2 separate regions of the Homo sapiens genome follow, and region 1 is reported to be linked to region 2. Evidence: microRNA targets listed by miRTarBase, many of them from high-throughput screens and not tested one by one. Region 2 holds a microRNA gene; the other region holds the end of a gene's coding sequence. Distances are between the middles of the regions.

The links. The annotated mature microRNA hsa-miR-4418 reads CACUGCAGGACUCAGCAG and lies in region 2 at 1,590-1,607, shown strand. An mRNA with a match to its seed (bases 2 to 7 or 8) in the 3' UTR can be bound and repressed. Matches are read on the target gene's strand: a 7mer-m8 pairs with bases 2 to 8, a 7mer-A1 pairs with bases 2 to 7 and ends in A, and an 8mer does both.
Region 1: miRTarBase lists PNRC2 as a target of hsa-miR-4418. Seed matches in the 3' UTR shown: 7mer-A1 at 1,581-1,587.

What each region holds. Positions count from the first base shown.
Region 1 is chr1:23,961,256-23,964,533 of GRCh38, reverse strand. It overlaps PNRC2 (proline rich nuclear receptor coactivator 2), which reads right to left. Exons shown (of 3, transcript NM_017761.4): 3 at 1,072-3,094. The coding sequence starts at 3,076. The coding sequence ends at 2,657. It overlaps SRSF10 (serine and arginine rich splicing factor 10), which reads left to right. Exons shown (of 6, transcript NM_054016.4): 6 at 1-187. Among named protein-coding and RNA genes, the nearest start is that of PNRC2, 3.1 kb to the right of the region's middle.
Region 2 is chr1:22,264,688-22,267,965 of GRCh38, forward strand. It overlaps MIR4418 (microRNA 4418), which reads left to right and starts at 1,552; the gene lies at 1,552-1,613. RefSeq lists enhancers at 1-235, 236-1,118, 1,775-2,294.

The DNA of each region.
Region 1 (3,278 bases), 1.7 Mb from region 2:
TGCCATCGAAAAGAAGACAAATTGAAATTACAGCATTTACCTAAGGTTCACAGTATGGCTGACTTCAGCAGCCTTACATGGTAAGTTCTCTGTACCAGCTATTTTTGGTTCTCGCAATTGCATCGACTTGGGAAATTCCTATCACCATTCTCTATATAGGCTAACCAAAACTTTTATCAGTACCTTTCCTAAAGTATGAAGTTAGGTAATCTTCCACTCCCACTTCCATTTACTCATTTTGCTTGAGTCAAACCAAAAATCTAGTGTATTACTAGATTAGTCACTAAAAATCTAGTGTATTCAATATATACACTAGATTCAATATATAGCTTAAAAACTAACAGACACCTAGGCTGAGATTTGTCCAATACATGAAGTTCAATTCTGCAATCCTTGGCATTGTTCACAGAAATTACCCTGGAAACAAAATGAACACCCAAATGCTGGTTCTGCCTTAACTCCAAATTGTTAACTAGTTTGCATGAAAATAATACAGCTTTGCCATGGGACTAGTTGTAGCATTTTAAGGATTACTCAAACTAGTTTTAAGATGCCCTATCATTTGGAATCTGTATCAGAAAGGTGTGGTTGTGATGCTTTTCTTCTGAGGGGTCCCCTTATATACTTTTCATTTGTCAACATACTTAAAACACAAGGGTTCTTGTCAACTTGATAAATTTGCTTATAATTTTTTTTCTATGAACCTAGATCATGGAATTAACTTTCAAAAGCTTTGCGATGTTTTCCATGTGTGGCCTTTTTTTTGCTTTTTAATTAACACTACTGGGAGAGAGAAATCCTAAGTAGTTGCTTAACTGCATAGCTGTCAAATCCTAGTATCTTCTGTATCAGTCAGCAAACTAGTTGCCCCTTTTCAAGCCAACAGTCCTATCACATTTTAGTTGTGACCTTTTTTATATATACGTATATATATATGATCAGAAATGTAGTGGTTCATAGTTCTGGAGTCTGAGAAATCCAAGAGTTTGGAATATTGTGAGTGTATTATGAGCTTCAAGTCAGTGACAAGTAAAACACATTTTTAAAAAGAATATTAAGCAATCAAAACCATTTTTAAAATAAAACCAAGCCAATGGGGAAAAATTTTATTTAATTTTATGCTTCACATTCATATCATGTACATTAAGTACTACATAAACTTGTCTTTAGGCTATCAATATTTAACTTGGGCAGTACTTCATCTTGATTTATTTGGAGAAATACAGCTTAGGCATCTGCTTACCTGCTTAGGCATCAAGAGGTGCCAAATTAGAAAATAGGGCATTAACAATCAAAATTTTTAAGCTGACCCACATACTTGCTACTGGTTTCGCTTATGTTTAAGCATTTAAAGTTGGCAAAACATGTTATCAATGTATTATGCAAGAGTTTACATCTTTTGCATAAGTGGTCCATTGGGTTGCACCTACCCCTTGACCAAACAAAAACAAAACATCACTGGCACCATACTCGAAACTACCTGTATCCTAGGTTATAAGATTGTGAAAGCCAACAATCTATAAGGTTGGAGGGACTCTAGTTAATCTTTGGGCTTAGAGGAGGAAAAAAAGATAGTCCCATACTGCATTTCACATCTCTTAAAAATAGTTTTAGCAGCTTAAACCTTTTTAGTTATAAAACTTATTACACTAGGGTTTACTTTGAAATATAGTTTACAACCAAATCAAGTATAACATACATACACTGGCACTTTAGCACAAGGGCAAACTTTAAAAACAAGTTATTTTGGACCTTTAAAATTAGGCCATATTATAAAAAACAGTCCACGGTCTTACATTCAGCAAATTCATACTAAAATACTCCATTTTTGTAAGATAAAGGCCAAGAAAACTTTACATATGCTACAAGTTTATTACAGATATTTACATGGCTCTTTCTCCCCTAGGTACTTAAAATTTTCACATTATCCAACTCCCCAAAGCAAGCTTTGCAGGAATGATGAGGCCAGAGCACTATTAGAATAGCTTGTGCAGTGCTGTAATACAAAAATGTATTTTGAAAGCTATTGAGTGACCATTAAATACTGTTTCTATAAAAAATGGTTTTGGTGTATTTGTTGACAGACACTTAATCCACTACATTTAATAAACAGGGCCATTGGGGTGTACTATGTCTCATTCTAATGAGCTCCAAATGCCCTTTCCACCCACTGTACAATTCACTAAAATGCAATTATTACGAAAAATTCACATTTTCTTTCAGCAGTGCATCAGGTTAGCATATTACTGGTTTGGGTGTTTCTAATATACTAAACCTTCAGATGTTTACCTAATTCTGAATCCTTGTGTTAGCTAGAAGCTTATAATCCGATTCACCAACTTTCAACAATCTACTGGTCCATGAATGATAAATTACTGTCTTCCCCTAACAATAGAAAAAGCTGATTCCTTTACCACTCCCCAAATCTAAACTTGGTTTCCACTTAAAAGTTACTCAGTTGAGAACACTTAATATCAAGTACAATCATTAGTTTAAGTTGCACTGATACTACCATTATATCACAGTGCACACAACACGAGATGGTCTATTTTTTTTACATTAATTAGTTCTACACAAATAGATTCCCTAGCGAATTTGTTTCAGACCAATTGACAACTATCCGTGAACATAACTAAATTTAAACATTTGTCTTATTTTATACCTGTACTTTAAGTAAGGTTTTAAGTTGAAATGTCATTATTTCCTTATCTGAAGGATTAAAGGAAACAGGGACCCAGTGGCTTGGTGGTTTGGGAAGAACACTTGGTGATGGCGGCTCACTAAATTTGGCACCAGCATAGTTCTGATTAGCTTGAGATTTAAAAAGTAACCTGGGACCTGATAAGCTAGAATTCCAACTTTGATTATTTGGAAAATTTTTGTTCTTCCCCCCATTTTGCATGGCCTGCCAGGCAGCTGCTGATGAGTTATAACCATGTCCTCTTTCTTTTTTCTTATGAACAATCTTCATCTGGGAATTCTGTTCCTTGGTCTTCTGTCTGTTAAGCTGTTGTTGGTTCTTACTAACATTTCTAGATTGAGGGGCTGGAATGTTATACCTCTCTCCACCACCCATCTTCAGCTTCTTTGTCACCTACAAGTGAATGGAAACAAATATTGAGTAAAATTCCATTAAGAAAAGTTCAAAATCTTTAAGAAGCTTCTATGGCTCCAACTTATAACTCCAGATATTTTGGACAAGACTCAATAACAGGCTATTCAGCTGCTTTAAACTCAAAAAAGCAAGCCGTTCAGACTTCAATATATGCACAACCTTT
Region 2 (3,278 bases):
TGGCAAGGACATCGGACTGAGGCTTTGAAGGATGTGGAGGAGTTTACTCACTGGGGAAGTAAGCGCAGACGGCCCTGCAAGTGGAAAGGCCTGGAGGTTTGAAAGGTGGCATGTTTTCGGGAAACAGAGGCTGGAGTCGGGCTGGAAGAGGCTGAAAAAGAGAGTGGGGTGGGGCCAGGTCGCTGTTGCAGCACAGGCAACTTAGAGGCTGTCCCACCCTGACGGGCATCCCCTCTGCTCCCTAGCCCCCACCCCCATACCAAACCCCTCCTGGGGATCACAGTACCACCCCTCCCCCCAAATAACTGGAATTGTTTGAAAATACCCAGCAAGAATTCAGCTCAGCAGGTTATACTGGTCAGGGGAAGCAGCTGATTGGGGGTCTGGGGGTGGGGGAGGACTCAGTGGGACTTCCTGGGAGAAGGTGAGAGGTCCTGACCTTAGGCCAGGGCCAGCGCCCCTGTGAGCACTGATCCAGGAGCAGATTACAAGGGAGACTGGAGCCAAATCCGCTTTGAAAAAGAGCTGGTGGAGTTTAACTCCCGCTCAGTGAGGTCACCTGGAAAAGCTCCTTCCCTGCCTGGGAGCCGGGTGTAGAGTTGGGGTGAGGGGGATGTGGGGCCAGAGCAGAGTTCTGGTAAGGAGCTCTGTGTGTGTGTGTGTGTGTGTGTGTGTGTGTGTGTGTGTGTGTGCGCGCCAGGGTGTATGTGCATGTATGTGTATATTTGGGGATGCATGTATGAGGACGTATGTGTATATCTGGGGATGTGCATGTGTGTGTGTATTTGTGTGTGAGCGTATCTGTGTGGTGTGCGTCTGTGTTTGTTAGTAGATAGTGCATTTGTGTCTCTGCCTGTTGGCCTCGCGATTCATCCATGGTTACCGTACTGACACCTGTGTGTGTGTGCGTGTGTGTGTCGTGTCCACCCCTGCACACACATGCACACTTCTGCGCAGCTTTTTCATGTCTGCTTCCATACATTTCCCTTTCCTGCTTCTCTCCACCCTTCCTTCCCAATCCTCAGCCCCACCACTATGCCAACATTCCTTCATTCATTCCTTCAAAAAATGTTTCTCGAGGGTCTGCTTTGTGCCAGGCACTGTTCTAGGCTCCAAGCATGAACGGGAGATAAGAAGGCGGGAGAGGCTTCTACTTTCATAGAAGCGTGTGTCCTCTGTGATGAGGTAGACATTAAACAGACAAGCCATTAGTAATATGGCACATAGTGACGCATGCTAGGGAACGAAATTCAGCAGCGTGAGGGGAAAAGGAGGGCTGTGTTACATGGCCTCTCAGGGAGGGCCACTGAGAAGATACCTGAGCAGAGACCTGAAGGATGAGAGGCTGGAGATGTCATTCTCTGGAGGCAGGGTGCCCAGGCTGAGGACGCAGCTAGTCAAAGGTCCCTAGGTGGGAGCATGCTTGGGGGGTTCTAGGGACGGCAAAGGGGCCAGTGTGGCTGGAGTGGACAGGTGAGGGGGAGGGTGGGAGGAGAGGAGTCAGCAGAGCCTCTGTGTCACCCAGGGGCCTGGGGGGCCTCCTGGGGGCTTTGGTTTTTGCTCTGAGTGACCGTGGTGGTTGTGGGAGTCACTGCAGGACTCAGCAGGAATTCTGGATAGTAAGTGGGAGGTGGGGGACCAGTGAGGAGGCTGTCGCCAGAACCCACTGAGACGTGGTGGTGGCTTGGGAACAGAGGGCAGAGCAGGGGAGGCGGGGGAGGCCCCATCTCAGATAAGTTGAGTGGGACGTCAGGGATTTGATGACCCAAGCCTGGAGTGGAAGATGTAAACCTGGGGGCCATTAGCAGTCCAGGGGCATGAGCCCAGTTCCCCTGGGAGCCACATCGCTCATTTGCTTGGCTGTGTGGCTTCTTGTGTGTGCAAAGCTTCAACGCCCCTCCCCTCTAGAGCCTTAGGAGAGGCCCCAGGGGTCAGCTGAGGTGGGGCCGAGCCGAACTAAGGGGCAGTGCCAGCAGTTGATTCAGGGCACCTGGGTGTTGGCATCAGACAGACCTTGGCTTGCATCTTCCTGTGACCTTGGACAAGTTCTTAACCACCCTGAGCCCCATCGTCTCATCTGTAAAGTGGAGATAATAGGAGTATCTCCCAGGCGGGCTGCTTGTGAGGGTTGAATGAGATGGTGCCTGTGTGGGACTGAGATGACACACAGCCCCCTTATTATTCATATTGACCATGAGCTATGGTGGCCCCTGGCAGGGCTTAGGAGAGGGGTATTTACTATGTGCCTGGTCCCTCTACGGTTGATAAACTTGATAAACGGGGAACCTGGAGCTCATCAAAGAGGCCAAGTGACTTGCCCAAGGCCACAAGGAAAGGGTGAAGCTGTCATTGGAACTGACTTCTAACCATGCTCCCCACAGCTTCAAGCTGCCGCTGCACAGGAAGCTCCAGGTAGGCGGAAGGAGTTGGGGTCTGAAGACTGACTCACCTGTCCAGGAACCTCTGCCCAGGGGTGTAAGGACTGCCGTGGTGCAGCCTCATGGCATCCCCCATTCCCCCTGCAACAGGGCCCTGGGTGTTCATTTCAATCCGATTTTTCTTTTCTTTTTTTTTTTTTTTTTGAGATGGAGTCTTGCTCTGTCACCCAGGCTGGAGTGCAGTGGCGCCATCTTGGCTCATGGCAAGCTCCGCCTCCCGGTTCAAGCATCAGTCCAATTTTTCTAAAGCAAATGTTGGCTTCTGGGGAGAAGGTGTGGCCGGACAATTTCCAGGAGCACATGGCCCTAGGCATACTGACCCTTTGAGATGGCCTTAGTTTGGGCAGGGATGCTGCAGGTGGTCAAAGCTGGACCTCCCGCCCAATGGAAGGTGTTGGGTGGCTGGCCCCCAGCTGTGTGGCGTGTGCATCGCTGGGCCTGAGTGTGTGCGTGTGTGTGTGCATGTGTGTGTGTGCATGCGTGTGTGTGCATGCGTGTGTGTGTGTGTGCGTTGTTGGGGTGGGAGTGGGAAGTCAGACCTGTGTGGCAAAAACCTGAGTCTAGTGGAAGGCCTCCCCTGCCCCTACCCACCCTCCTCCCTGGCCGAGGGGGCTGAACCGTGGCTGGAGGGAGCCACGTCAGGCTGGGATCTCCGAGGGGTCCTTGAACCACATCTGAGCTCTGGGAAGGCTCCCCGGTGCATGGAAAGCAGAGAGGGAGGCTCCGTGGTGATTTACAGGCACCTCCTTTTGATCGTCTCGCTCCCTTGGAGAGATCCCTCCTCCGCACCTGGGGGCTGCAGGGGAGGGGGGGCGCAGGGGGTTCTCAGCTGGCCCAGGG